Linked DNA regions of Homo sapiens. The protein of the gene in region 2 purifies or fractionates together with the protein of the main gene of each other region. This does not show direct contact. Each region holds a gene or a part of one and is shown on either strand. Other genes may lie near its edges.

The links.
Region 1: the proteins of KLRD1 (region 2) and ACAD10 purify together in Homo sapiens (affinity purification with mass spectrometry; one large-scale study listed by BioGRID and IntAct). This does not show direct contact.
Region 3: the proteins of KLRD1 (region 2) and SLC7A11 purify together in Homo sapiens (affinity purification with mass spectrometry; one large-scale study listed by BioGRID and IntAct). This does not show direct contact.
Region 4: the proteins of KLRD1 (region 2) and CYB5D2 purify together in Homo sapiens (affinity purification with mass spectrometry; one large-scale study listed by BioGRID and IntAct). This does not show direct contact.
Region 5: the proteins of KLRD1 (region 2) and PLXNA1 purify together in Homo sapiens (affinity purification with mass spectrometry; one large-scale study listed by BioGRID and IntAct). This does not show direct contact.
Region 6: the proteins of KLRD1 (region 2) and IMPA2 purify together in Homo sapiens (affinity purification with mass spectrometry; one large-scale study listed by BioGRID and IntAct). This does not show direct contact.
Region 7: the proteins of KLRD1 (region 2) and TGFBR1 purify together in Homo sapiens (affinity purification with mass spectrometry; one large-scale study listed by BioGRID and IntAct). This does not show direct contact.

What each region holds. Positions count from the first base shown.
Region 1 is NC_000012.12:111,751,349-111,755,407, reverse strand, and holds part of ACAD10 (acyl-CoA dehydrogenase family member 10), read right to left. Parts: intron 1,637-4,059; coding exon 1,493-1,636; intron 1-1,492.
Region 2 is NC_000012.12:10,326,722-10,330,627, reverse strand, and holds the end of KLRD1 (natural killer cells antigen CD94), read right to left. Parts: 3' UTR 1,020-3,906; downstream 1-1,019. UniProt on the Homo sapiens protein: Immune receptor involved in self-nonself discrimination.
Region 3 is NC_000004.12:138,231,665-138,236,450, reverse strand, and holds part of SLC7A11 (cystine/glutamate transporter), read left to right. Parts: coding exon 1-126; intron 127-4,068; coding exon 4,069-4,184; intron 4,185-4,786. UniProt on the Homo sapiens protein: Heterodimer with SLC3A2, that functions as an antiporter by mediating the exchange of extracellular anionic L-cystine and intracellular L-glutamate across the cellular plasma membrane.
Region 4 is NC_000017.11:4,145,769-4,150,554, reverse strand, and holds part of CYB5D2 (neuferricin isoform 1 precursor), read right to left. Parts: exon of another isoform or gene 4,696-4,786; coding exon of another isoform or gene 4,488-4,695; intron 665-4,487; coding exon 524-664; intron 1-523. UniProt on the Homo sapiens protein: Heme-binding protein which promotes neuronal but not astrocyte differentiation.
Region 5 is NC_000003.12:126,988,830-126,993,615, reverse strand, and holds part of PLXNA1 (plexin-A1 precursor), read right to left. Parts: coding exon 3,829-4,786; intron 2,233-3,828; coding exon 2,050-2,232; intron 1-2,049. UniProt on the Homo sapiens protein: Coreceptor for SEMA3A, SEMA3C, SEMA3F and SEMA6D. Necessary for signaling by class 3 semaphorins and subsequent remodeling of the cytoskeleton. Plays a role in axon guidance, invasive growth and cell migration.
Region 6 is NC_000018.10:12,001,386-12,006,171, reverse strand, and holds part of IMPA2 (inositol monophosphatase 2), read right to left. Parts: intron 1-4,786. UniProt on the Homo sapiens protein: Phosphatase that can use myo-inositol monophosphates, myo-inositol 1,4-diphosphate, scyllo-inositol-1,4-diphosphate, glucose-1-phosphate, beta-glycerophosphate and 2'-AMP as substrates in vitro.
Region 7 is NC_000009.12:99,142,924-99,146,612, reverse strand, and holds part of TGFBR1 (TGF-beta receptor type-1 isoform 1 precursor), read right to left. Parts: intron 1,882-3,689; coding exon 1,725-1,881; intron 1,117-1,724; exon of another isoform or gene 1,001-1,116; intron 129-1,000; coding exon 4-128; intron 1-3. UniProt on the Homo sapiens protein: Transmembrane serine/threonine kinase forming with the TGF-beta type II serine/threonine kinase receptor, TGFBR2, the non-promiscuous receptor for the TGF-beta cytokines TGFB1, TGFB2 and TGFB3.

The DNA.
Region 1 (4,059 bases), about 100 Mb from region 2:
CAGGCCAGGCGCGGTGGTTCAGGCCTGTGATTCCAGCACTTTGGGAGGCCGAGGCGGGCAGATCACCTGAGGTCAGGAGTTTGAGACCAACCTGGCCAACATATAGTGAAACCCAGTCTCTACTAAAAAATACAAAAATTAGCTGGGCGTGATGGTGCACACCTGTAGTCCCAGCTACTTGGGAAACTGAGGCAAGAGAGCTGCTTGAACCCGGGAGGCGGAGGTTGCAGTGAGCCAAGATTGTGCCACTCTACTCCAGCCTGGGCCACCGAGTGAGACTCTGTCTCTCAAAAACAAAACGAAAAACTAAACCACAAAAAAGACCCGAAGGCAGAAAGCCTGGAAGAATGATCAGATTCCCAGCAAGAAGTCAAACACCACCGTCCAAAACAGAGGCCCCAAGGTCTCGCTGATGTGAGCTGGGTGAGGCTGCCCCTGCCTGGTGTACGGCTTGACAGCACCCAGGGATGAAGGGCGCCATGTTGGCAACTATTATCTTATGTCACAAGATGCGAAGCAAGTGCTGGCAGAATGTGGCTGTCTTCCCAGATGACGGGGAACACAGCCAGCACACACTGAAGGGATAAGGGGAGGGTCCTGTGCTTTGCTCAGGGTCACGGCCAGCTCTGCCTCCAAGCAGCAGTGGACCAAGGCCACTCAGGGCTCTGGGAAACCGAGCTACAGTGATCTGCCCTGGGGCAGGGTGTTCAAGGGAGACACCCAGCAGCCTCCACCATATCTAGCACGCCAGCGTCAAAGAACCAGGAACTGTGAGCATGAGCATGGGTTGGTCCCTGATGGTTGAGGGTCTTGGGTGGGGTTGGAGGCTGCCCCACAGAAAGCTGGACAAAGCAAGGTCAACATGGCATTGTGCTTGGTCATCACAGGCACTTAGAAAGAGCCTTAGTTAGCCTGGGCAACATGGTGAGAGCCGGTCTCTACAAAAAATAAAGAATTAGCTGGGCATGGAGGTTTGCGCCTGGAGTCCCAGCTACTTGGGAGGCTGAGGCTTCAGTGAGCCATGATGTACCACTGCATTCTAGCCTGGCTACAGAGCAAGGCCCTGTCTCAAAAAATAAATAAATAAAAGGTTAAAAAGAGCCTTAGTGAATGACTAATGTCACACTTGAAAATAAGCTTCTATTTTTGTTAATTCAATATTCAGATGAAGGCCAGCAGAGGGTCCCTTTTCCCTGCCTTACTCTTAGGTTGCCCAACACCTCCACCAATGGCCCTGGGAGTCCAGGGCCACCCAGGGGCCCTGTGGCCCCATCAGACCCACTGCCTTGGACTAAGCAGCTCACCAGGTCAGTAAAACACAAAGGCCAGTCCTCTCTTCTTGTGCCTTTCCAATTTTTGAAAAACTGCCCAAACAGCTCCAAGTAGAGGTGAAATAAAGTTTCTAATGTCAAGAAGCCAGGCTCTCATGCTTTGCTGAGTGAGGAGGAAGAATCTCTGCCTCTGGGAGGCCCCCTCGTGCCCCTGCCCCTACCTTGTTTCCTGCCAGGTCCATGAGGTGGGCAGCTCTCAGCACCAGCAGCCGTGCCTGCTCAATCTCCACGCGCGACTGCGCGATGTCCGCCAGCACTGTGCCCTGCTCCACCAGGGGCTTCCCAAAAGCCAAGCGGGACTTCACCTGTCGACACAGGAGATGTGCGGCTGAGGACATGCTGGGCTGGGGGTGGCCACGAGAGGCGGGGGCTGGTGGCCTGCAGAGCTGGGTGGAAGCAGACAGGACAGGGCAGGGGAGGAGAGTGAAACCAGGACTGTGCATCTTCTCAGCCAAGGTGCCTGTGTGCAGCCATGCGCCATGTCCAGGGAGTAGGTCTGACACACAACCTTCACGTGTGCCACAGCCAGCCACAGCCCACAGGGTGCCTGTAACAAATTGCTTCCAAGAACCCTTTATTCCAGCCATTGCACATCTGGGCAGGCCTGGCTACCAGACAGGAGCAGTTATAGATCTGAGCCAGCATCTGACCCAAGGCTACTCCTGGGAATGAGGGAGTGACTGCAGGCACTGCACACGGCGCAGGCGAAGGGTGCCCTCTGCTGACCGCAGCACCCCTTCCTGCCCTGCAGCTCCAATGGGAGCAAGGTCCCCTCAGCCCCGTCTCGCTCCCGGCCTTCCGCCGTGGGTGGCCTTATCTGCAAGGGGGATTTTAAATTCTGAAAGTCACAAGGCATCAGAAAAGGTTCTAAGTATTCCTTTTTTTTTCTTGTTTTATTTATTCTTTTTCCTTCTTTTTTTTATTATTTTTTTGGAGACGGGGTCTCACTTTGTTGCGCAGGCTGGAGTGCAGTGGCGTGATCTTGGCTCACTGCAACCTCCGCCTCCCGGGCTCAAGCAATCTTCCTACCTCAGCCACCTGAGTAGCTGGGACCACAGGCAAGAACCACCACATCTAGCTAACTTTCCAATTTTTTGTAGAGACAGGGTCTCACTACATTGCCCAGACTGGTCTCAAACTCTTAGACTCAGGCAATCCTCCTGCCTTGGTCTCCCCAAGTGTTGGGATTACAGGCATGAACCACCACACCCAGCCTAGTTTTTTTTTTTTTTTTTCACTAAAAACAATCTACACAAATAATTTATCTCATGGCAGAAAAACTACCTGTTTTCAGAACAAAAAAAGAGAAGACAGTAAGAGCACCTAGAATCCCACCATCTAGTCACCACTAGTTAATATTTGGTGGATATTCTCCTCTATCCTTCTATAGTTTTTTTATATATACTTATTTTTTCCAAAAACGGGAGCCACACTCTATATATGGTTTTGTAGCCTTTTTGTTTGTTTGAGACAGAGTTTCGCTTTTGTTGCCCAGGCTGGAGTGCAGTGGCGCGATCTCGGCTCACTGCAACCTCTGCCTCCCGGGGTTCAAGTGATTCTCCTGCTTCAGCCTCCCAAGTAGCTGAGATTACAGGTGCCTGCCACCACACCTGGCTAATTTTTGTATTTTTTTAATAGAGATGGGGTGTTTCATAATTTTGGCCTGACTGGTCTTGAACTCCTGACCTCAGGTGATCTGCCTGCCTTGGCCTCTCAAAGTGCTGGGATTACAGGCATGAACCACAGCACCCGGCCAGCCTGCTTAAAACAATAACAACAACAACAACAACAACAACAAAACATTATTTTGCATCAAAGCTAACAGCCTGTTTTTGTTTGTTTTTTTTTTTCCCAGACAGGGTGTTGCTCTGTTACCCAGGCTGCAGTGCAATGGCACACTCACAGGTCGCTGCAGCCTCGACCTCCCAGGCTCAGGAGATCCTCCCACCTCAGCCTCCTGAGTAGCTAGGACTATAAATGTGTGCCACCACACCTGGCTACTTTTTTTTTTTTTTTTTGAGACAGAGTATCGCTCTTGTTGCCCAGGCTGGAGTGCAATGGTGCGATCTCGGCTCACCGCAACCTCCACCTCCCGGGTTCAGGCGATTCTCCTGCCTCAGCCTCCCAAGTAGCTGGGATTACAGGCATGCGCCACCACGTCCAACTAATTTTATATTTTTAGTAGAGACAGGGTTTCTCTATGTTGGTCAGGCTGGACTCGAACTCCCGACCTCAGGTGATCTGCCCACCTCGGCCTCCCAAAGTGCTGGAATTACAGGTATGAGCCACCACACCCAGCCCCACCTGGCTACTATTTTTAATTTTTTAATTTTAATTTTTTTTTTTGAGATGGAGTCTTGCTTTGTCACTCCGGCTAGAGTGCAGTGGTGCAATCTCAGCTCAGTGCAACCTCCGCCTCCTGGATTCAAGTGATCCTCCTGCCTCAGCCTCCCAAGTAGCTGGGATTACAGGCATGTGCCACCATGCCCAGCTAACTTCTGTATTTTTAGTAGAGACGGGGTATCACCATGTTGGCGAGGCTGGTCTTAAACTCCTAACCTGAAGTGATCCGCCCACCTCAGCCTCCCAAAGTGCTGAGATTACAGGCGTTAGCCACCGCGCCCAGCCTTATTTTTTATAGAGATGAGGTTTTGCCGTATTGCCCAGGCTAGTTTCAAATTCCTGGGCTCAAGCAATCTGCCTGCCTCGGCCTCTCAGAGTGCTGGGA
Region 2 (3,906 bases):
AAATGTTTTTATATATACATTAAATTTAAAATATATACATATACATACACATAAATTATAAATATGTATCTTATTTTTATATATTTAAATTATAAAATAAATGGTGGAGTAAAATTAGCAAGATGACAGAGTGGGAAGCCCTGGTCTCTTTTCTCTCTACAAATGCACCAATTCAACTAAAAATTCATAGACAAATTTTCTTTGTGGGAAATTAAGAAACTAGTTGAGATGCTCCAATGCTGTTGGTGAAACTACTCATGTTGAAGCCTTAGGGAAATCTAAGGTACACTCCTTCCCTAATTCCTGCCCCCAGCACAGTGCCAAAAAACCAGGGAGAAACTCCCCTGCTCCCAGCTTTGCTCTTGGTTAATAAATGATGGATGGCATGTCCAATTCCCCAATTTTTCCAGGGGCTACTCCTAAGACTGGCTTCTCTCTAGCCTGTCTCAGTGTACTGATAGAACCAAGCATAGCCTGGCTGCGTGGGACCAGCAAGAACATAGATGGTGGGGTGAGCTGGCAGTTTCAACCACTCCTTGGATCAAGATGGAGTGAGTGGACCAAAACCTTTAACTCTCAGCTTCTCCTTGGGGGAAAAAGTTGAACTAAACAACTGATAATCCATATTTTCTGGAGATTGCCTGAGGAGCTAGCTTTATTCCTGTTTATCTCAGAGCACTGACAGGACCTGGGATATTCTAGATGCCTGGAATCTACCAAGAAAAAAAGAAAGCCAGTTGGACTAGCATGAAGGTTGAAGAAGACTGCAAAAATCCTTCGCCAAATAATAACTAAAAGACAACAAAAAATGCCTTTACTGATATTATAAAAAATAGACTTTAAGTCAAAAATTGTCACAAGAAAAAAAGAAGGATATTACATAATGATAAAGGCGTCAATTCACATTGGAGGATACAATAATTTTAAATATATATGCACCCAACATCAGAGTATCTAAAGGTATAAAGCAAACATTGACTGAACTTAAGGGAGAAATAGATAGCAATACAATAACAGTAGGAGATTTCAGTGCTCACTTTTAATAATGGATAGAACAACCAAACATAAAGGCAACAAAGACCCAGATGACCTGATCAACACTGCAAGTCAAGTCACCTACAGACATGTGCAGAACATTCCATCCAACAGCAGCAGAGTATACATTCTTCTCAAGTGCACATGGATCATTCTGCAGGATAGATCATATGTTAGGTCATAAAAGAAGTCTTAAGAAAATTAAGAAAATTGAAGTCATATCAAGTATCTTTTACAGCATCAAGGGAATGAAACTAGAAATCAGTTGCAAAAGGAAAACTAATAAATATGTGATAATTTAACAATACATTTTTGAACAACCAATCTGCAAAGAATAAATCAAAAGGGAAATTTAAAAACACATTAGAATAAATGAAAACAAAAATAAAGTCTAACAAAACTTATGGGATGTAGTAAAAGTAGGGCTAAAAGAAAAGTTTATAGTGATGAATATCTGCATTAAGAAAAAAGAAAGGTCTCAAACAATGCACTTTATACCTTGATATGGTTTGGCTGTGTCCCCACCCAAATCTCATCTTGAATTGTAGCTCCCATAATTCCCCCATGTTGGTGGAGGGACCCAGTGGGAGATAATTGAATCATGGGGGTGGTTTCCCCCATACTGTTCTCATGGTAGTGAATCAGTCTTATGAAATCAGATGGTTTTATAAGGGGAAACCCCCTTTGGCTTGGCTTTCATTCTCTCTTGTCTGCCGCCATGTGAGACATGTGTTTTACCTTCTGCCATGATAGTGAGGCCTCCCCAGCCACGTGGAACTGTGAGTCCATTAAACCTCTTTTTCTTTACAAATTACCCAGTCTCTCAGTTAAGTCTTTATCAACAGTGTGAAAATGGACTAATACATATCCCAAGCAACTAGAAATGTAGAAAAGAACAAACAAAGTTCAAATTTAGAAGAATAAAGAAAATAATAAAGATTAGTTCAGAAATAAAATAGTGAATGGAAAGGATATATAAAAAGTAAACAAAACTAAGAGTTAGTTTTTGGAAAATATAAATAACTTGACAAACCTTTAGCTAGACTAAGAAAAAGAAGAGAGGCCTTAAATAAATGAAATCAGAAATAAGACATTGCAACTGATGCCACAGAAATATAAAAGATGGTAAGAGACAACTAAGAACAATTATAGGCCAACAAATTGGATAACCTAGAAGAAATGAAAAAATTCACAAAGACAAGGACCTACCAAGACTGAATTATGAAGAAATAGAAAATATGAGCGTATCTATAACTAGAATGAAGATTGAATCAGTAATCAAGAAACTTACAACAAAAAAATTCCCAGGACAAGATGGCTCTTCTGGTGAAGCCACCAAATATTTAAGGAGAAATTAATGGCCATCTTTCCCAAGCTATTATATAAAAATTTAAAAAGAATAAATACTTTCAAACTAATTTTATGTGGCCAGCATTACCATTACACCAAAGCTTGTCAAAGATACCACAAGAAAACTATAAGCCAATATGTCTAGTAAACGTAGATGCAAAAATCCTCAACAAAGTAGTAGCAAAATTAATTCAACAGTACACTAAAAGGAGTATATGCCATAAGCAAGTGGCATTTATCCCTGGGGTGCAAGGATAGCCTAACATACAAAATCAATTAATGTAATATACCACATTAATAGAATGAAGGATAAATGTCACCTGTGCATCTCAATAGATTCAGAAAAAAAGTTTTCACAAAATTTAATACCCATTTTATGATGATAACTCCTGCCAACCTAGAATTTGAGAAAAATATTTCAACATTTTGAAGGCCCTATATGTAAAGTGCATAGCTAATATCATGCTATGGAAAAAGCTGAACTTTTCCTCTGACATCAGAAACATGGCAAGGATGTTTGCACTTGCCATTTCTATTTAACCCTTGTCCTACTTAAAGCTCTTAGGCAAGGAAAAGAAATTAACAACATACAGATTGTAAAAGAAGAAGTACAATGGTCCCTGTTTGCCTATGGCATGCTCTAAAGAATCCACAAAAAAGCCTCCTAAAACCAAGTAAAGTTGCAGGGTACAAAATCAACATGCAAAAATCCTCCTATATTCATTTATTAAAAGACTTCATATAGTTAAAATATTTGTATTTCACAATGTGATCTGCAGATTTAGTGCAATACCTATCAAGACCTCAATGGCATTTTAGAATTAGGAAAACAATGATACTAAAATATACATGGAACCACAAAAAGCCCTGAATAGCCAAACAAATCTTGAGCAAGAAACAGAAGGCCAGAGGCCTCAAACTTCCTGATATCAAAATATATTACAAAGCTACAATAATTGAAACAATATGGCACTGGCATAAAGATGAACATATAGACCAATTAAACAGATTGGAGAACTTGGGAATAAACTTTGCAAATATGGTTAAACGGTCTTTGGGTGGCAGGACTATTTAAGGGGAAATGACAGTTTCTTCAACAAACAGTGACGGGAAAAATGAACATCCATATTGCAAAGAAATTGCTTATCTTACACCATATGCAAAAATAAATTTCAAATGGATTAAAAGCCTAAATGTAAGTACTGAAAATGTAAAGCCCTTCAAAGAAAACATAGAGGAAAACCTTTTGACATTGGTTTTGGCAATGATATCATCAATCTGACACCAAAAGCACAGGCAACAAAAGCAAGAATAGACAAGTAGGACTATAGCAAACAAACAGCTTGTTCGCATCAAAGGTGTGAAAGGAAAATATCTTGGGCCCCCAAAATCACTCAACAAAAGGGAAAATTCAAGCTGGGAACTGCTTAGGGCAAAACTGCCTCCCATTCTATTCAAAGTCATCTCTTTGCTCACTGAGATAAATACGTATCTGATTGCCTCCTTTGGAAAGGCTAATCA
Region 3 (4,786 bases), on a different chromosome or scaffold from region 2:
AGCTTTGTCTTATGCTGAATTGGGAACAACTATAAAGAAATCTGGAGGTCATTACACATATATTTTGGAAGTCTTTGGTCCATTACCAGCTTTTGTACGAGTCTGGGTGGAACTCCTCATAATACGGTAAGAGCATAGTAGAAAGAATTAAGAAAAAATAAACCAATTCATTCTTATGAATCACCTTGATTATTTTTAACTGGTTAGACACATGCATGTCATGTGACTACATGATAAACATGTCTACCTCAGGATATAAAGCCTGTGATAAAGTACCTTTCTGAATTAAGATATTTTTAATGCAATTTTATCACTGACAAGCAGTTCACCAGCAATGCCAAACTTTTAGAAATATCTACCTTTCTTTGACCCTCAGCTATTCTCTTTGACACTTCCAGGAGAAAGATGCTTACTTGAAAGAATATGAACATGAAAATTCACCTGGATACCTTTTGACCAACTAGACCAAATTAAATATTGAAGTTTTCTCTTATTGTAGATTATATCATTAAGGCATTTAACTTTACTTAGTCATTGTGACCAAGACACTTCTGTGCCTCACAACTTAGTTGGTCACCAAGTCTTATACTTCATAAAAAACAGAGTTTGCATGACAGAGTCAAATGACTCATTTCCTTATATTAAACAGATTAGGAACTACAGTTCCAAAAGTCTTTTTTGATTTTATTGTTGTAACAATGTGTTTACATTCCTGCTTGTCTTGGTTTAAAATCACACTGAATAGTGCTAAGTCACTCTGAATAGCAAATTTCCTTCGACTTTGTGGGAAGCTTATGATGTCATATGAGCATTTCAGAGTATCACAGTTCCTTAAGGCTAACTACTTTGATAAAATGTGATGTGCACAGTCTGATTACAGAATTTAATGGATATTACTAGGGAAACTTGCTCTTATCAAACTTATCAAACATATGTGATTGAGAGTTCATGTGAGCTTTTATGGCTAAGTGCCAAATACAGTGCTAGTAAGTATTGACAACACTAATCATGAGTTTTACAGTGTTAGAAGTCTTTTTTTTTTTAACCAAAAAAAGATCTTCAAAGTAGTATATGCTTCATGAAGGCTTTTTCATTTTAAACACTCTGCATTATTTAAAATTGTTATAATGAAATAATAATAAGTATTTTTTTCCTTTCCTGAAATTCCTCTATCAGGAATGCACTTCTATTCCTTTTGGTTATCTCAATCTTATCTGCTCTTCAAAGGTCATCTTAAATCCTTTCTTTCCCACAATTAATTTCCTGTTTATTCTAATTTATGTTATTTCTTTCATCTCTAAATTCTTCTGAAAATTCTATCTCTGCTTCACATTTGGCATTGAGCATGATACCTTCTATTCTTCCTTAATATTTTAGGTGTCTATATTTTGTTTCCCTTTTAAAACTGCCAACATTTCAAGCATACAAAGATAAGATCTTTTTGTAACCCATATACTACTTAGGTCAGTGCCCTTTTTTTGGCATATATTAAATTATTTTTGAATAAGTAATTGAAAGTTTAAAGTTACAATATATTGTGTACAACATACTCAGCATTCAAATGCATGTACTACTTATTGACTGCTGGCCTGTCAGGCTGGCGGGCTTTGGAGCTTAATACAGTTGGACTTGACTCCGTCTTCAGCCATGTATTAGTTGTGTAACTTTGGCTCATTGCTTAGCATTATGATGAACATGATCATTCCATATAAATATAGCTTATATCTTACAGTAGCACAGATAAAATATTCATATATTAATTTATTTATTCCACAAACTGCTACTGAATGGTAAATGGCAATAAAAAGAGATCTAAAATGAAATCAGCCACAATTTCTGCTCCCAGGTAGCGGATAATCAAATGTTACTTTAATTTAAAAAAAAAAACTACTTTTCTCTGTGTGTGTGTGTCTGTTGACAGAGGAAAGTACCTTTGTATTCTAGAAGCTTTTAAAATATGTTCATATATCTCTTTGTCATAACATACTCATATTGCTGAGTTGGCCTTTTAAATAGGCAGAATAACAAATGACATGAGGAGGGACAAAATATCTAAGTATGTAAATATTTCTCTTCTTTTACTAATACCCATAGTTCCTAAGTACTTCCCATTAAAATTATACCTTTAGATTAAGTTAGTATTGCCAGAAATAATCTGTAAAACACAGATTTCAAGGACAGAAATATTATCTATCTGTACACAGCAGGGGTCATTAAACCGAATTTGCGTGTGCACTATATATTCAATATATATTGGGTTTCCACTATATGATAGACACTGTTCTAAACACTGGAGGTAAAACTGTGATTAAGATAGATATGATTTTGTACCCTTAGAGCTCAGAGTCAAGTGGGAGGAAATCATTATCAATCGAGAAATCACATAGGTAAATATAAAATTGCTATTGTGATAAGCACTGTGGAAGACAGGCCAAGGGCTTCAGTATGAATATACTCCAAGAGATCTGGCCCAGTCATAGGTTGGAGAAGTTTTCCCCTGGGAAAGGAAAATTGAACTAAGATCTGAAGTATAAAACATAGTCAATTAGTTGCAGAGGCTGCAGGCAGAGAAGATTCATATCCTTCTAGTGGGAAGAAGCTAACTGAAGAAGTAGGGAGAGCTTAGACCAGATGGAGCCTTGAATGCAATGTGAAGGCTTTTTGCATATCCTGAACATATTTTGAAAGCACTAAAATGACATAATCAGATTTTAAATTATACATAAAAAATTGTATAAATGATGGAGAATAGGATAAACAGTTTTGTTTGGGGAAGATGGGAGGGTGTCTAGGAAAAGAAGAAAATGAAAAACCTTATGCCGCTCTCCAGTATCAGCCGGCCAAAGTTGGGAACATGTAATGCTGGTTGGTTTTCTGATAATCTATGGATCGGGCATGAATGTTGGGTAACCACGAGAAGAAAGAGAAGCTAAAAAGGAAGTTTGGCATAAGAAATTAGATAATTGCTGCCGGGCACGGTGGCTCACGCCTGTAATCCCAGCAGTTTGGGAGGCCGAGGCAGGTGGATCATCAGGTCAGAAGTTCGAGACCAGCCTGACCAATATGGTGAGACCCTGTCTCTATTAAAAATACAAAAAATTAGCCAGGCATGGTGGCATGCACCTGTAATCCCAGCTACTCAGGAGGCTGAGGCAGGAGAATTGCTTGAACACGGGAGGCGGAGGTTGCAGTGAGCTGAGATCGTGCCACTACACTCCAGCCTGGGGGACAGAGTGAGACTCCATTTCAAAAAAAAAAAAAAGAAATTAGATAATTGCACAGACTTGCATGTTTATGGAAAAAATATGCATTCATATATACATACATCTAAAATGAAAAGGTCTGTGCAATTTTCTCATAAAAATATTTGAAGAATTAAAATAGAAAGATGTATTACCTATATTTCTATATACCTGAATTTATTTCATATTCTTGTCTCATTTATATTTTCTTAATTGTATCAGATTATAATAAATCTATTATTTTTAAATTTATATTTTATATCTGAATGTTACTATAGGATTAAGAATAATCACTTGACTTTGAGTTTTTGTCTGTACAGAAAAAATAAAACAATGTCAAATATTTAGGCATGTATTTGCAGGGAACACTTAATACTAATTTTTTAGGTTGAGTGTTGTGTTCATTCTTTTGACTATGCCCTGACACATTAGATCTGTATGGCATTAATTAATTCATAATATGGCTGAAGTTTACTTACTGACTTTTTGAGAAAGAAGATGGCTTCCTGTAAGCCTAGCTCTGTCAAGATCTCATGTAATAAACCAGATTTTTAAGGAAAAGTCAAATATGGGAGAGCAGGGGAAAAGTTGATAGTACTTACCCTTGTTCCCAAGAATATGTGAAGTTTAAAATCTAGCCACCAGTGTTACAGGAAGTACTTCATTTGGAATGTCTATGGCAACCTAATCAAGTACGGAATTCTGAAAACTATGGACTTTCATATTTAACATGTTCCATATGCTAAATACACTCAAGGTAGAAAAAATTAATGAAAATGCAGTTTTTTCCCCTGTGGTTAACCTAAATATATACATTTTTTTTTAGCCCTGCAGCTACTGCTGTGATATCCCTGGCATTTGGACGCTACATTCTGGAACCATTTTTTATTCAATGTGAAATCCCTGAACTTGCGATCAAGCTCATTACAGCTGTGGGCATAAGTGAGTATTATAGCTATATATGTGAAAAAGGAAAAACAACACAAAAATGATTGAAGACAAAGTGTCTTTAGACTTTTTGCATTGCGGGATTGCCTCTCACATCATGTTCTTTTTGCTTACAGTTCCAAATTTCTACTGGAAGGATTTGGAGTGGGATCCAATACTGTATTCCATGCCAGTTTTGTATTTGGTCAATAGATATGATGGCTAATCTTTTTAAATAGTAAAAATCACCTTACTAGTAAAATATTAAGTCTATTATACATGAACAAGACTTTTAAAGAGAAAACCCCAATTATTTTAGAGACTACTTGAATTGGAAATTAGCTATATATTGAATTATATCTCATGTGTAATCATGGAGTTACCTTTATGTAGTGGGTGTTTAAGTTGTACTTATACATTTTGTAGTGTTAGCAGCTGTCACTCCCAGTGTTATAATGTCAGCTGCCTGTTGTTGGTCATGAAAAGAATTTTCTTTTAAGATTGATTATTAGTAGTATTTTCTAACTAGATTTCTTTATGGTCTCCAAATTAAGAAGTTGTTCATCTTTTATCAATGGGCACAAATATTCATTGATTAAAAAAAGAAACAAAAAGAA
Region 4 (4,786 bases), on a different chromosome or scaffold from region 2:
CTCATTTGAGAAGCAAGTCCCTTATGTAGCATCAGTAAGTAGCAAGTGCAGTAACCTACACAGTGGTTTGATTAGCATAACTACCACCTGGGAGACAGCTCACTCACGAAGTTTGTCTCCTCCTAGAGGACCAAATAAAAGGGGATTTGTCGAAACACAAATTCAGGCTTCAAGCCCTTCTGGCTGTGTGCTGAAGCCAGATGCATCGAACACAGTGAGACAGGGAAGCTGCCCTTCTGGAGCTGGTTGTTCAAGGATGGTGCAAGCAACCACTGGCTATGGCGAAACTGAGGCCAAAGCAAGCAGCTTAGTAATCCTCTCCCAAGACTAAGAGTGGGGGAAGCAGGTGCCCATCCATCTCCTTCTGGGCGGCTCATCCCTATTCTAACGACCAGAATTTAAAGTAAAACAAATCCATGGCTGTTTTTCAGATTTTAAGCTTGAACCCAATCCCTAAAAAATCTCAGCCCCCTAAAAACACTGCAGACAACCAAATGAAATGTATGACCTATGGACGACTTACCAACACACACATAATTCTTCTCATAGAATGAAAGCCAATTGTGAAGTGTCAGCATCTCAGCGGCTGACAGGTCGGATACGTCATCCACGAGGCCTGCTTCAGAACAGTCCCCGGTCACGAAAGCTCTGGATGCGTCTCGGCCTGGAACAGAGATGTTTCCATCAGACCCAGGTGTAAACCACTGACACCATCCCCACTCAAGAATCTGTTTTCTTTCTTTTTCTTTTTTTTTTGAGACGGAGTCGCACTCTGTTGCCCAGGCTGGAGTGCAGTGGCATGATTTCAGCTCACTGCAACCTCTGCCTTCCGCTTTCAAGCCATTCTCCTGCTTCAGCCTCCAGAGTAGCGGGGATTACAGGCGCCCGCCACCACGCCTGGCTAATTTTTGTATTTTTTTAGTAGAGATGGGGTTTCACCATGGTGGCCAGGCTTGTCCTGACCTCAGGTGATCCGCCCACCTTGGCCTCCCAAAGTGCTGGGATTATAGGTGTGAGCCACCACGCCTGGCCAGAAACTGCTTTCTGAGAAACGTCTCTTGACAAGCCCTACTCCTTATCCCCAGGGAAATGGGGTCCCCACCACCTCCTCTGTGAAAGATGCTCCTAGACCTTGGACACACATCTCTTTGGCATTGGTCATATTCTTTCTTTTACCTTCGGCAAACTTTAACACAGCTGACCACTTCCCTTGGCCTGATTTTCCTCCTACTTCTCCAGCTCCTCACTGTCTACCAGCCTTAGGGGTCAATTACTGTCCACACCCTCACACTTGACAATCTCATCCACACCTGTGGTTTCAAAGCCCACCTACAGGCAAAGATAGCCACATCTGTATCTTTAGCTCAGATGTCTCCCAAGGCTCACACCTGTATATCCAACAACACTTAGACGTCTTACAGATATCACAAGATCAAAATGTTCACACTGGCTGGGCGTGGTGGCTAATGCTCATAATCCCAGCTCCTCAAGAAGCTGAATAAGGAGGACTGCTTGAGCCCAGGGGTTTGAGCTATGACCATGCCACTGCACTCCAGCCTGCGTGACAGGGTGAGACCCCATCTCTCTTAAAAAAAAAAAAAAAGTCCACATTGAAATAGTGATTATCAGCACCCTCACAGCCAGGAAACCTGTATCTACTCCAGTATTGCCTGTCTCAGTAAATGCCAACCAGTTGCTCAATCCAGGAATGCAGTTCTTTTTTTTTGTGCATGAGACGGAATTTTGCTCGTCGCCCAGGCTGGAATGCAAAGGCACAATCTTGTCTCACTGCATCCTCTGCCTCACGGGTTCAAGCGATTTGCCTGCCTCAGCCTCCCGAGTAGCTGGGACTACAGATGCGCACCAACATGCCTGGCTAATTTTTGTATTTTTAGTAGAGATGGGCCAGGCTGGTGTGGAACTCCTGACCTCCGGTGATCCACCCACCTTGGCCTCCGAAAGTGCCGGGATTACAGGTGTGAGCCACCGCATCCAGCCTGGGGAATGCAGTTCCCCATTTTTTTTTTTTTTTTTTTTTGAGACTGAGTCTCGCTCTGTTGCCCAGGCTGGAGTGCAATGGCGCAATCTCAGCTCAATGCAACCTCTACCTCCCGGGTTCAAGCCATTCTCCTGCCTCAGCCTCCTGAGTAGCTGGGACTACAGGTGCCCGCCACCACGTCCAGCTAATTTTTGTATTTTTAGCAGAGACGGGGTTTTGCCACGTTGGCCAGGCTGGTCTCGAACTCCTGACCTGAGGTAACGTTCCCGCCCTGCCCTCCCAAAGTGCTGGCATTAGAGGCGTGAGCCACCATGCCCAGCCTGCAGTTCCTAACACTTCCTTCATCCCTCACATCCAGTCTCCAAGTCCTGTTATTTTCTGCCTAAGCAGTGTTCTTGTGTCAGTCTGCCTGTCTCCACCCACATCTAAGCAAGCCCAGGCTGCCATCCTTTCTCACCTGAACTCCTACAGCAAACCTCAAGGAAGCCCTCCCTGCATTCATTCTTGCCCCACCAATCTGCTCTTCATACCACACTCAACTGATACTTTAAACACAAACTGATCACATCATTCTCCTGCCAAAGAATCCTCAGAGGCTTCCCTCTGTTCTATGAGAATGTCCAAATTCCTTAACACGTCATTCATTGTCCTGCACCAGCTGCCACCAACGCTGCCTTGCCAAATTTCTGTTTGTTTGTTTTTGAGACAGAGTTTCGCTCTTGTTGCCCAGGCTGGAGTGCAATGGCACAATCTCGGCTCACCGCAACCTCTGCCTCCCAGGTTCAAGCAATTCTCCTGCCTCAGTCTCCTGAGTAGCTGGGATTACAGGCATGCGCCACCATGCCCGGCTAATTTTGTATTTTTAGTAGAGATGGGGTTTCTCCATGTTAGTCAGGCTGGTTTCGAACTCCCAAACTCAGGTGATCGGCCCACCTTGGCCTCCCAAAGTGCTGGGATTACAGGCGTGAGCCACCACACCTGGCCACTGCCACGTTCTTTATTGTTCACTTTGCTCCCTTCCTCTCCTCCTCTTCAAATCGGTTACAGCCTCTGGTAACACCAGTACTTTTCCTTTTAACACTTTTCACAAAAATAATACATTAATTGTGTAATATCTATTTAATATCTATTTAATGTCTGTCTTTTCTACTAGTAAGTTTTATCAGGTAAGACAACACACCAAACTCATTTACTATGGATTCCCCAGTGTCTGGTACAGTGCCTGATCTTTAGTAAATTCCCAGTAAATATCAAACGAATTAAATACATAGTTTTTTTCTTTTTTGAGATAGAGTCTCGCTGTATCGCCCAGGCTGGAGTGCAGTGGTGCGATCTTGGCTCACTGCAACCTCTGCCTCCTCGGTTCAAGGGATTCTTCTGTCTCCAACTCCCAAGTAGCTGAGACTACGGGCATGGACCACTGTGCCCAGCTCACACAAACATTTGTACATGAATGTACATAGTGGCATTATTTATAACAGGCAAAAAAAGTAGAAAGAAACCAAAAATCCATCAACTGATAGATAAAATGTGGTATATCCATATTATTAGAATTATAGTATCTATAGAATATTTTCAGCCATAAAGGAATAATGCACTGCTACATGCTGGTACACCATGGATGAACCCTTAAAACATGATGCTAGGTGAAAGAAGCCAGACACAAAAGGCCACACGTATGACTCCATGAAATGCCCACAATAGGCCAATCGACAGGAAAAGAAAGTAGATAGTGGTTGGCAAAGGAAGGAATAAGGAGTGACTGCTAATAGATAAGAAGTTTCTTTCTGGGGTGAGAAGAATGTTCTAGAGTTAGTGGTGACATTTTTACAAATTTCTGGCTATACTAAAAAAAAAAACCCACCGGGCCAGGCGCGGTGGCTCAGGCCTGTAATCCCAGCACTTTGGGAGGCTGAGGTAGGCAGATCACGAGGTCAGGAGATCGAGACCATCCTGGCTAACACAGTGAAACCCCGTCTCTACTAAAAATACAAAAACTTAGCCAGGTGTGGTGGTGGACGCCTGTAGTCCCAGCTACTCGGGAGGCTGAGGCAGGAAAATGGCATGAACTCAGGAGGCGGAGCTTGCAGTGAGCCAAGATTGCGCCACTGCACTCTAGCCTGGGCGACAGAGTGAGACTCCATCTCAAAAAAACAAAAAAAACACTGAATTTTGGCTCATACCTATAATCCCAGCACTGTGTGAGACCTAGGCAGGTGGATCACATGAGGCCAGGATTTCCTGTCCAGCCTGGCCAACATGGCAAAACCCCATCTCTATTAAAAATAAAAAAAATTAGCCAGACATGGTGGCACACGCCTGTAATCCTAGCTCCTCGGGAGGCTGGGGCACAAGAATATTGAACCCGGGAGGCAGAGGTTGCAGTAAGCCAAGATTGCGCCACCGCACTCCAGCCTGGGCTAAAGAACCAGTTTATCTCGAAAAATAAAAATAAATAAATAAAAAGGTTGGGGGCAGTGGCTCACACCTGTAATCCCAACACTTTCAGCGGCTGAATCACTTGAGCTCAGGAGTTCAAGACCGGCCTGGCCAACATGGCGAAAACCCATCTCTACAAAAAATACAAAAATTAGCTGCACGTGATGGTGCACACCTATGGTCCCCGCTACTTGGGAGGCTGAAGTGGAAGGATTGCTTGAGCTTGGGAGGCGGAGGTTGCAGTGAGCCAAGATCATGCCACTGCACGCCAGCCTGGGTGACAGAGGCAGACCCTGTCTCTAAACAACAAAAAACCCCACTGAATTGTATACGTTAAAAGGACTTTAC
Region 5 (4,786 bases), on a different chromosome or scaffold from region 2:
GAGGGAGGCGGTACCCAGGTTGGGTGCTGGGAGGCAGGTATGGGCACCTAGAGCCTCTGAGGAGAACTTGGGGCTCTGAGGGGTGGGGGCCCGGCCAGGGTCACCAGGAAGGAACTAGCCATGTCAGGCCATGAGGACGCAGCCTCCACCTTCCCAGCTGCACCATCCAGCAGCTGCCCACAAAGCCAGGCTCAAGGAGGCACCTGGCCCAGGGAGCAGAGGACAGGCTCCACCCATACCTGCCTCCCTGAGAACGGTCCTCCTTGGGACTAGGGGTGGGAAGGGGAAAATTGGGAGAAGGAATGGGGGCAGGAAGAAGGGGAAGAGTTGGTAGAATCTCAACCCAGAAGCAGCCTCTTCCCATAGATGGGCCCAAGCCCAACTCTGCAGTTCCCTGTTCTGTACCTCAGTTTCCCTCTGTGGGACTGGGGTGAGGAGGCAGGGGAGACAGGCCAACTGGCACCCAGAGGAACAGCTGTGTCCTGCTGCTCCCTCAGCAAAGCTCTGACCCAAACGGTGCCCCTGGGGCACAAGAGGGTGAGTGCTGGGCAGCAGGAACAGGGTAGGGCTAGAGGAACCTGGTCACTGGCTGGGTAACAGGCTCTGGGGCGCCCCACAAAATGTCTCTAAGCTGCTGCACTGGGCTTCCACACAAGCACGGTCCTCTGTCTGGCAAAACCCACTCCAACACCCACCCCATGCGCTCGAGAGCCCTGTGTGCCTTCCAGTGTGAGGAGAGGGAGTGCAGGCTGAGAGGACGGGAGGGGCCTCGCACCAGAGCCACAGGGCGGTACCCCACATGGGGGCCAAGAGGGAAGTCACAGCAGAGGACCCAACTCAGGGGTCACAGGACTTTCCCCATCAGCTTCAGCCTCATAGCCACTATGAGCAGAACCAGCAGGACCCCAGGGCACCCCCACCCTGGGGGGCCTACAATCAGCAGCTGGGCCCCCACGGGCCCCAAGACCACCAGCACCCCCCGCCCCCAGCCCAGAGCCTGAACATCTGGCTTATTTCACAGAGGGAAGCTGAGGCTGCAGGGGATCCCCTCCCAGAGATCACAGAGCCAGGGAGGGGCAGGACTCCCCACCACTCCCAGGGCAACTACCATGGCAGAGATGGGAGGCCCCCTTCCTAACACTGGGCACCGGGCTGAGAGCTGCAAGCCCTGGCCAGCCCCCGGCCCAGCCCCACTCGCGGGCACACATGGGCTCAGGGGAGCTGCATCGGCACCAGCCTCTGGTGCCGGTTATGCACCCCAGGACCCACCACTGCCCACTGGGCCTCTGGGGTGTCCAAGTATCCCCACCCTTCAGTCTCTCCGGGAGCTTCCTCCACACCAGGCCAGCCTGGTGCCCACCCCAGCCCAGGCAGCTCCCCTCCACCCACACCCTCCAGGAAGCTCTGCACTGCCTCTGTCCAGCCCACTGTTCTGGGGAAGGAAAGGAGAACCCTGAAGACCAGACAGCCATCCCTGTAGCACCTAGCCCTCCCCCTGCCACCGTGGGGCCAGCCCAGGGCTGTGTGCTGGAGCTCCTCAAGCACCAGCCAAAGACAGGCAGGGGCACTACCCTTGCCCTGCCCTTGGCCCAGTAGAGGGGCTGGGGAGAGGCAGGGCCAAGGCCTCTGGCCCGGCAGAGTGCTGAGGCAGCAGACACTGGATCTCCTGGCTGGGGAGCAGGGCCCAGAGGGGAGGGGGCCGCGCAGGCCTGCCCTCACCACCCACACACAGCAGCCTCCCCAGGAGGTCAAGTGCCCTTGGAGAGCCAGCCCCCGCCTCAGCATCCCTGGGCCCCTGCACAGGCTCCTGCGTGGTCTCAAAGTGTCCTTGCTTAGTGGGCCTGGGGCCAGTCATGGGCAGAGGCACAGAGGGGAGTGGGGCCCTTCAAGGTCACTGGGCCTAGTGTAGGGCAACATTCCCCCTGCCCCCTGTACGCCAGATCTAGCCTCCCACAGCATACAGCAGCACTGGGCCTGCCACCTGGGACGGCCGCAAGCCTTTGTTCCTGCCCCAAGCCCCCTCCTCACCCCACCCCACCCAGGCCTGACCTTGCGGATGCGGCCACTTCGCGTGCCGGCGAATACCACAGTGCGGCCCCGATAGTCATAGGCAGCCACGGCGGTCAGGCCATCATCCTTGTCCACGAACAGGGGCGTCCCCTCAATGGTGACTGTGCCCCCCAGGGGCTGGTTGAAGTCCTGCCCGCAGAAGTCGTCATCGATCTGCAGGGGCTGTGGGAAGGGGCAGGGTGAGAGCCACTCCCCGGGCACCTTCTCCCGGAGGACTGGGCCTCCCTGGGCAGGGCTGGGAGTGCAGTTGTCTTTCTAGAGAGGTTGGGGGTAGCCCCCAGAGGAGAGGTGCAGACAGAGAGGGTTTAAGACAGGAGGGAGCAGATCACACCTGAAAGGCAGAGGGCGGGCTCCCAGCTAAGAGCACGAGAAAGCAATCAATAGCTTGAGGTTCCGGAGCAGCTGGGGGCCAGTGTGGAGGGGGCGCTGCTCCACCGCCAGGCCTAAGGAGAGGGCAGGGCAGGCAGGGAAGGGATGTGGGGAGAAGTGGGGCAGATGGTCCTTGTCTGCAGAGGGTTCATTGGCAGGGGCCAGGCTGCTCAGGAGGAAGGAGCAGGGGAGGCTGGGCCAGGGCTAGGCCACATGGAATGAACAGGTGGGAGGGGGCAGTGGGGACTGTCCCCAGGGATGAAAGAGCAGGCCCCAGCCTTGGGGCAGGGCACAAAGAGAGAGTGTGGTGGGGCTTCACCCAGGCTCTGCCCCTACAAGCCTCAGTGTCTCCATCTGTATGGTGCAGAGAAAACACGTTCCTTGAAAAGCCAAGGGGAGGGTGGACAACCGCATCTGCCAAGCACACATGGGCCCTGCCTCACACAGGCAGTGAGCGTGAGACGGAAGGACTGAGGGGCCCTTGCAGTCCCACTCTGCCCTGAGGACAAAACCAGCAACACCCTCAGGTCAGACATGGGAGACTACAGCCAGAGAGGGCGAGGCCTTCCCCTGCGATGGCCAGCGACCCCCAGCAGCAAGCCCAGAAGGCCTGGCCTCGGGGGTCCCAGGTCTGGGCCGAGTCCCAGCCCCTTCACTTTCCACCCTAAGCAAGGCCCGTGCCCTCTGAGCCTGCCCAGGAGTGTGAACAAGACACTCCCTGAAAGGCAGCGAGATAGAGGCCCCACCCCAGCTGTGCCTTCTGATGGGTGCTGGGGGCTGTGGCTCCCTGCAGTCAGGGTCACTTTCTCTGCAAGTTGTTAACTGTGGCCTGCACCAGGACACCATCAGCTCCCATTGCTGGGCAAAAGCAGAGGCCCAGCGGGCAGGTGCCACCAGGGTCATGTGGGGGACACAAGCGCTCCATGGAAATGGTGTCTGGGCTCACCTGATAGGCTCTGGCACCAGCCTCTCACTTGCTGTGTGACCCAGGGCAAGTTACCCCACCTCTCTGATCCTATAACCTCATTTGTAGGATGGGGACAAGATGGAGCAGGCAAGCACCAGGTGTAGGACCAGGCATGTGGCTGGCACTCTGTCCAGTGTCCCACAGGGGCTGTGGACTATGCCAGCAGGGCCTCGTCACCCCATCTTCTGAGGCACAAGACAGCATCATGGCTGGGAGCAGCCTTTGGGGCTAGCACCCTGGGTCCAAACCCACTCTCTGGGGGATGGAAAAGGGCAGCCCCACCTAGCTGAGCCATGGGGATGGCCAAGCCAAAAGCCAGGCCAGGCACACAGCAGGCACCACTGGGCGTGCATCTGACACCGATGCCGTCGTCCCTGGAGGGGATGGGGCCGCGGGAGGAGGGGCGCCCCTGCCCAACTCACCGAGTTGATGCAGCCCAGCTCCTTGTTGAGCAGCCACGGCAGGGAGAGCTTGCCCTCACCACGGTAGCAGGACTGGATGCGCTCCTTAATCTTCTCCTTGATGGCCCTGAGCGTGAACAGGCACAGTGCTGACTCCTTTGGTGGCTTCACGCGGTTCTTCTGGCCCTGGGCGAACACAGTGAACAGCACGTCCTCGTCCTCAGCCAGGCCCAGCTGGTGGGCCAGGGCACGGCCGGGCCGGCTCAGGTAGGCATCCTGCACCAGGCGGTACTCCACACCCGCCTGCTCGCAGCCAATGGGGAACTCAACGTACGAGTAGAATTTGGGGTCGTCCACACAGAGCCGCACGATCTTGGACGTGAAGAAGTGCTCGCCGGCGGCATCAGGCGAGGTCAGCTGTGTGTCTAGCTGCAGCGTGAGGTAGTAGACAAACTGCTCGCTGCGGAAGCTGTACACATAGTAGATGTCAAAGGCCGGGAACTTGGACAGCGTGTCCGAAGGGATCTTGAGCTGTGATGACACAAACTCATCCTGGTACACGAAGCCGAACATGTCGGCATCCTCCTCGTTGGCCATGAGCCGACGGCTGGACAGTGTGGGGAAGTACTCGGACTTGCCATCGATGGGTGTGCCCACGAAGAGCTTGGCCTGGCCCTGGCCCGGTGGCCCGGCAATGAGCACGCCCGCCATGCTGCCTGCCTCCTGCACGCTGGACAGGTAGTGCTCCTTACGGTGGTGTGGCTCACCCAGTTTGAAGAGATCGTCCAGACGCAGGAACTGGCAGATGCCCTGGGAGGCGCTGCCACAGGCCAGCAGGCGGTTAGCGGCATAGTCCAGCAGCAGCAGCTTGTTGACGTTGTCAGTACTGCCCAGGCCGTGGGGGCAGGACTGCACGCTGGGCGGCGGGTAGCACTTCTCGTTGTCCTCCACAGGGCCCGTGACGTGGGCCCGCAGCAGT
Region 6 (4,786 bases), on a different chromosome or scaffold from region 2:
CATAAGTGCTGTCAGCACTGCCAGTTTTCCTAGAAACTTCAGGCACTAAATCTGTTTTTCCATGTCTTCTGTAGCTATGTGACTTTCCTCTTCTGTAATGGCTTGCAATGACGTTTTTAAAGAAAACGCTCCACACCCTGAAAACACACATACAAGGAGCAACTACGAAAGCTTAAACTGGGCACAAGGTTGACAAAGCAGCGAACAGATATGACTCAGGTCCAGAGGGACTAGAAATGACTCAGGCACAAAGGTAAGTTTCTAAGAAACTGAGGAGGAATGTGCAATTCTTCTCCTTTTTAAACCTGACTTCAAGTAGGAAACTGAAGCGGTGGAAAGAAAACTGCCAGTGAGCCCTGAAGGAGGAGGCAGTGTGGGTCTGCAGGCACTGACACTCCACACCCAGGACAACTCACGCTGCAGCACCCAGACCACCCACGCGGCATGCCCACGTGCCTCCCAGGACACTCGGGAGCAGGAGCTCTGTCTGTTCATTCGCCAGATGCGTGGGACACCCTTTAGGGAAGTCACCAAGCAGCTTGTTTTCCCAGCAGCAACTATTAATATAAGTTAATTTGTTAACAAAGCTTCTGCTGTGTGTAACCTTTATTATTTATCTATTTGTTTTTTAGGTTTCATTTAGTGTAACCCAGCAAGTACTTTTAGAAATTTTTTTTTTTTTTCTTGGAGACATGGTCTCGCTTTGTCAGCCAGGCTGGAGTGCAGTGGCACAATCATGGCTCACTGAAGCCACAAACCACTGGGCTCAAGCAATCCTCCTGCCTCAGCCTCCTGAGTAGCTGGGACCACAGGCATGCATCACCACACCTGACTAACTCTGCCTCACATTTTTTATGAGAATAACTCTAAGTACCCACACTGAGCACTGGATGTTTTTCAGCAGCTGATCATTCATACCCTAGAGCTGTCTTCCTCATCACCCACCTTGTGTACACCTCTGCCCATGAGACTGCCTGCCCGCCTACAAGGTGGCACGAGCATCCCCCTTCCCACCTGCCTCATGCTTGTGGGCAGCAGGGAGCAGGCTTCTGCACTGTGTGGCTGCAGCGGTGTGAAGGCCAGCAGAGGCGTGAACCGTGCTCGGTCTTTGGAGGCACCAAAAATACTTCCCTGGTACATGGGAAGAGATGCACAATTTTTATTCACTTAAACCTGATTTTACTCATGTAGGAAGCTAATACCTGTGAGATGAAAGACAATGTTTTACAGCTGTCTGCAGAGGGAGTGGGGAGAGTCTGCTCTGCAGACATGACTGTAGACAGATGTGTGAAATCATAAAGACCTTCCTAAAAGCCACTGGAACATCTACATAGAATCCACAATATAGGCAGGGCACGGTGGCTCACGCCTGTAATCCCAGCACTTTGGGAGGCTGAGGTGGGTGGATCACTTGAGGTCAGGAGTTCAAGACCAGACTGGCCAACATGGTGAAACCCCGTCTCTACTAAAAATATGAAAATTACCCAGACATAGTGGTGCATGCCTGTAATCCCAGATACTTGGAAGGCAGGAGAATCGCTTGAACCCGGGAGGCGGAGGTTGCAGTGAGCAGAGATTGCACCACTGCACTCCAGTCTGGGCTACAGAGCAAGACTCCATCTCAAAAAAAAAAAAAACCCACAATATAAATAGGAAAAAAAATGCACATGACTAAATTTAGGGAAAAAAAGAACATTCCATACGTCTATCCAATAGACAAGAGGAAAATAGCAACTGGATTAAGGCTAAAAGTTTGGTAATAAGTTATTATAGAATATTATATCCTACTGCATAACTTAACCACTTTTCTTTTTTAAAAAATAGTTTTAACAAACCCTCCTTATAATTTTGACAGCTGAGTGCCTTTAAGCCCCTTTTTTCTTTCTTTCTTTTTTTTTCTTCTGGCTACTTAGTCTGTTTAGTCTGTGACAAGAAGGTCAGGATCATCCCTGCTGTCCACAAAGGAGATGATTTATGATACTCTGTCCCCATCTTCACAAGCCACTGCCCAGTGGGAAAGCAGCTGGATGTCAATGTTCAGCTGGTGGTGGCTGGGAGCATGTTTTTCCCATGTCAAGGATTCTGTTTGATGTTTTGCTTGACTCACGCATTCAACAGACACTGCTCTGTGCTGGGCACTGCAGGGCAGCAGGTTACATGGGGGCTCTGGAGCAGGGCTGGGAAGACAGCTAAAAACACTAGACCCTTGAGCTGCTGACCTCATCTCTGGGCCTAGGCCAACCCAGAGAAGCTCCAACAGGCTGCTCCACAGAAGGGACAAGGACGGGGTTTCTATCACTATAGCTCAGGGATGCTACTGAATCTTTTCCAAGTAGCTACACTTGTATCTCACTCAAAATCATCATCTGAAAACAGGTTTAGGCGCCCCACAAAGCCAGGGCATGGCAGGAGACAGCTATGTGGCCAAGGCCAACAGCACACTCCAAAGACCCAATCTATAAAAACCCGGCCTTACCATGCTGCCTTTTTTTTTTTTTTTCCTTTTCTTTTTTTTTTTTTTAAGATGGAGTCTCACTGAGATGCCCAGGCTGGAGTGCAATGGTGCAATCTCAGCTCACTGCAACCTCCACTTCCCAGGTTCAAGCGATTCTCCTGTCTCAACCTTCCAAGTAGCTGGGACTACAGGCATGCGCCACCATGGCCCAGCTAATTTGTTTTCCTATTTTTAGTAGAGACGGGGTTTCATCATATTGGCCAAGCTGGTCTCGAACTCCTGATCTCAAGCTATCCACCCACCTCGGCCTCTGAAAGTGCTGGGATTACAGGTGTGAGCCTCTGTGCCCAGCCCTGGTTTGCTTTTTGTCATGTTACGAGTTAAATGCTGGGACTTCAGGGATGACCATGGTCAGGTCCCTCATTCACAGGTGAGGAGTTCGAGGCCCTAAGTGGTGAGATTTGCCAAAGCTGCTAGGGCCAGTGACAGAAGCAATTTTATTTATTTATTTTTTATTTTTTGAGACAGAGTTTTGCTCTTGTTCCCCAGGCTGGAGTGCAGTGGCGTGATCTCAGCTCACTGTAACCTCCACCTCCCAGGTTCAAGCGATTCTCCTGCCTCAGCCTCCTGAGTAGCTGGGATTACAGGCACGCACTACCATGCCCAGCTAATTTTTTGTATTTTTAGTAGAGATGGGGGTTTCACCATGTTGGCCAGGCTGGTCTCGAACTCCTGACCTCAGGTGATCCACCCGCCTCGGCCTCCCAAAGTGCAGGGATTACAGGTGTAAACCACCGCGCCCAGCCTATTTATTTTTTTGTTTTGAGGCAGGGTCTCACTCTGTTGCCCAGGCTGCAGTGCAGTGGGGTTTTTCATAGCGGCTGCATCAATTTACATTCTCACCAACAGTCTGCAAGGGTTCCTTTTAATCTACATTTTTTTTTTTTTTTTTTGAGACAAGGTCTTGCTCTGTCACCCAGGCTAGACTGCAGTGGCAGCATCACAACTCGACCTCCAGGACTCAAGCGAGCCTCTCACCTCAGCCTTCCAAGTAGCTGGGAGCATAAGCGTGCACCAGCATGCCCAGCTGATTTTTTAATTTTTTTGTAGAGATGGGGATTCACCATGTTGCCCAGGCTGGTCTCAAACTCCTGGGCTCAAGCAATCCTCTGACCTTGGGCTCCTGAAGTGCTAGTATTACAGACATGAGCCACTGCACCCCACCAGAAGGAAGTTTAAACCTTATCATTCTTTGATTCAGTCTACACCTGTCTTCCAGGTCAAGGAGCAAACCTTTGGATTTCATGGATGAGTGAAATAAAATAATAAAACTGGGGAGCCTGTATCAGGTTTTTAAAAAAATGTTATTAAGTCTATTTTTAATATCATTTCATGAAAGACTAAAATCAAGGAAAGAGAAAAGCTCAGAATAAAAGTCTTTCCTAAAGGAGGATGAGAGGCAACTTCAAATTAAATATATTGTTTAAGGGATATATTTAAATACTTAGAAAGCAGAAAAAAATCACAATGTCCTATTTTACAATATGTATACAATTTTCTCTCATCACAAATTTATCAACTTTTCTATGATCTAAAATACAATTAAATCCCCAAAATTTACTTTCTTTTTAATCTTAGTCATTGGCAAAAAAAACTCACTTCACATAAATATGTTGAAAAACAACTGCATTTGATGTCAATTTTTGAGGCACACTGAGCAGAGAAGAGAACAGCTGCTTTCACCGTGTCCACACATTCACCCTCAGAGCTAGGGAAGATGGGGGTGACACACAGACTGGGGCTGTCCGTGGTGCAGCCACAGTCCACTGACTTGTGGGCTAGAGCTTGGGAACCCCAGATTTCAATCACTGATTCCTGGACAGGTGTGTGGGTCTGACCCTACCAGGGGGCCTTTTCAGAGATGGAGGCTGGTGTTCAGCCCGGGCACGCTCCCAGGTAAGCCTGTCTCACCCTACCTATAATCCCCTGCTCTGCATCATGGTTTTCCCAAGGAACTCTGGAGTCTGGCGGTCCCTGGCAACCCTAAGGCCTCAAGGGTGGAGGGAGGTACCTGTGCTCACCCCATAATACATTAACTTTTACCTTGTGTACACAACAGCGAGTATCTAAATTTACCTTTTACAAATGGAACCAACTGCACACATTAACCCAACAGTGGGTTGCGTGCAATCTCAGAGTGCAGTTTGTCCAAGTGACCTGACTGAAACACATCACAGCCCCAATAACTTCACTGTGCCTGATCCTGCATCTCCTCCAAGCCTTTACCAGACCCCACGCAGATGAGCCAGCCCTCCCATGCCACGGCCACAC
Region 7 (3,689 bases), on a different chromosome or scaffold from region 2:
TACCACCAATGGAACATCGTCGAGCAATTTCCCAGAATACTAAGCCCATTGCATAGATGTCAGCACGTTTGAAGGATTCAAAATGTTTCATATTTATGGAATCATCGAGAACTTCAGGGGCCATGTACCTAAAAAAAATTTGCAAAAAGAACTTTGAAAATCATCCCCTTACTGCCATATTTGGATGAACCTCCTTTCAGACATTTCTTTATACATAGACATATGTACACAATATTACATAACAAATATTAGACTCAAGAAAAATATTAAATATCCACACTGGTTTGCACATTAATGATGTCAACTAAATCCCACAAAATGCTAAAATAGCAGTTTCACACTATCTGCCTCATGATCTTGGTTTCCAATGAAAGACATACATAACAATTGTGACTGTTAAAGGTGTCCTAATGTACACCACCTATACACGTACTAGGTAGAAACCATGCATTTTAATTTAGAAGTCTTCTCACTGAGGATGAAAGGAAGGGCACGAATATACTCCAGGGAAAAAAATAATAGATACAAAAGAATGCCAGTCCTCATACTGAAGCTTCAAAAACCTACCAAAATTATGGGTCAGGACCCACAGAGACCTACAGCAACCACTGACAAGGACCCCTTAGCTGGTTGAGAATTGAGAGTCATCTACGGCCATACCACCCTAAACACGCCCGATCTCGTCTGATCTTGGAAGCTAAGCAGGGTCGGGCCTGCTTAGTACTTGGATGGGAAAATTGAGAGTCCCCAGGGAATCCAGAAATCTCAAAATTATACATGCAATTTGAATAGACTAATGCTGCTGGCTCTCCAGCTGTCTCCAAGGCCAAGACAGTAGTTTGAAAAAATGCTGTGACAGCTTGTGATAAGGGGTTTGGGTCAGAAATGCCCAGGTTCAAATCTCAGCTCTTCGGCTTATCATCCACATGAAGCTGGCCATATTATTTAACCTCCTCAAGGTGGTTTCCTCATCTGTGAATTAAAGGGTAATAACACCTACCTAATTAAGTTCTTTTGAAGACTCATGGACTCAACAAATATCTACTGAGGATCTACCATGTATTAGGCACTGTGATGGATGCTGGGAATACAAGGCTGCTCTCAAGCAGCTTGCACCTAATAGAATATATAGGCAAATAAATAAACAGTTACAACATAACGCATAAGTGCCTCAACGGTCCCAGTTCAGTGTGCTATGACAGTCCCTGGCAGGGACTCCTAAGATTTTTGAGGACTAGAAAAAACTTCCTACGGGAAAGGTGGGTATGAGGCTGAGAAACAGTAGGGTAAAGTATGCTCCAGGAGACAGCATGTGCAAAAGTTCTAAGAAAGCAAGAAAGGCATATTTTTAGGAACTGAAATATGAAAATAGCAGGGCTAGCTACTGCACAGTATTTGAGAAGGGATTAAATGAGGTAATATACGTAAAAGACCTATTAGACGATTGGCACATAGTAGGTGCCCTATAAACGTTAGTTACTACTGTTATTATAATTAACATGCCTAATGATATTTTCTGGAAGGGCAACCTTTCATCAGCAGGCATCTTTTTAAGTCAGGTAACTCTGGCTTCAGAGCAGGCAAGACCATGAGATCTTCTTACCTGTTGGCAATCTAATAAAGTGCAAGTTTAAGCTGAGTTTCAGCAATGATATGTATATATGAAAGAGAAGGGAAAAAAGGTGATTTCAGAAGATATTAAATATAGTTGTTCAAAAGTATACCTTTTTGTTCCCACTCTGTGGTTTGGAGCAATATCAATGGTATCTGTGGCTGAATCATGTCTTACTGCCAGTCCTAAGTCTGCAATACAGCAAGTTCCATTCTTCTTTACCAAGATATTCTTTGATTTCAAATCTCTATGAGCAATGGCTGGCTTTCCTAAAGAATCAAAAATTAAACATGACTGCTTAAAAGGTAATACCAATCACAACTCACATCTTTAGGTTCAAAAGTCTCTTCTCCCAACCCAAATTATCAAAGCATTTCAGCCCACATGACCTACAATACTTACGGCATTATTAAACTCAAGTGAATCACTACACCAAAAGTCACTGAATTTATATTTCTTTAAAGAAAATGTGGACAATAACATGCTTTAAAAGATGAACAACTCAAAGACTGGGGCAAAAAAAAAGTTATCAGTTTATCTGTTGGTGCCTTATGAATTCTTTTTAAGAAACTTAGCCATAGACTGATATTCCAGCAGCCCAGGAACCAAGCATGTAGAACATCACTTCCCTATCAACTGCAATGTACTCAGTATTAAGTATATTATCTTTGATGCTAACCACTAGAAAATGTTATTAAAAAATAATAATTATAATGTGGAAAACCTGGAACCTTCATACACTGCTGGCAGGAATGTAAAATGGTTCAGGCACTTTAAGAAAATAGTATGGCAGTTCTTCAAACCATTAAATAGAGTTATCATATGATACAGTAATTCAACTCCTAGGTATATACCCAAGATAACTGAAAACATGAAACTACATACAACTTGTACACAAATGTTCACTGCAGCATTAGCTACAATGGCCAAAAGAAACAAACCAAATGTCCATCAACGAACGGATATATGACATATGCCATATCCATACACTGAAGTATTACTTAGCCATCAAAATGACTGAAGTACTCATACGTGCTACAACATAAATGAACCTTGAAAACATGCTAAGTGAAAGAAGCCAGTCACAAAAGACCACATATTGTATGATTCATTTATATAAAATGTGCAGAATAAGCAAATCTACAGACAAAAAGGAGCAGTTGTTGCCTAGGGCTAAGGAGTTTGGGAGGAAAGGGGAGTGACTGCTAGTGGCTACAGGGTTTCTCTTTGGAGTGAAGATATTCTAAAATTGACTGTAGTGTTTGCTGGCTGTACAACTCTGAGTATTCTAAAAACCACTGAATTTTACACTTTAAGTGGGTGAACTTTATGATGTGAATTATAACTCAATAAAACTGTTACAATCAATAATAATAATAACTACAAAGATGGAGCTAAGATGTGAACTAGCACTTATGCTGTATGTAAAGTGGGGAGTGGGGGAGCCATTGGGTTGCAAGTGGACAACTGCTAGAGCAGAGAGATATACTGGCATCTGAAATCCCACATGCACAAAAACTACAGCATACAAATGTCATAACTAAAACTTAGTATTTAATTTTTCAACTGTAAAACTATCTCATGCAGTCTCCTTATCTCAAGGTCAAATATAATTATTAGATGGCCAGATAACAGTTACCTAGCATGTTGATGTTTACAAAGCACTTTCACATTTCATTTGATACTACACATAAAAATATATTCAGTTGGACCTGAATTCTGAAACTGAGATCCTCAAAAATCATAAGATTGAATGCTACTTTTAAGAACTCAAAAAAAATCACAGTTTTGTTACAACGACTAGAGAATCTCTAAACAAATTTCCAGATTCCTAGCTCTACCTGAAATTTTGAACTGAAAGATAAAATGTTCTCATCTAAAAAATTTGTTTTAAATATCTCCAGTTAGGCCACCTACTGTTTTTGTTTTTGTTTTTTTTTCTGAGACAGGGTCTCTCTCTATTACTCAGCTGGGAGTGCAGTGGCATGATGTCTGCTCACTGCAGCTTCGACCTCCCAGGCTCAGGTAATCCTCCTACCTCAGCCCCCTGAGTAGCTGGGACTACAGGTGCATGCCA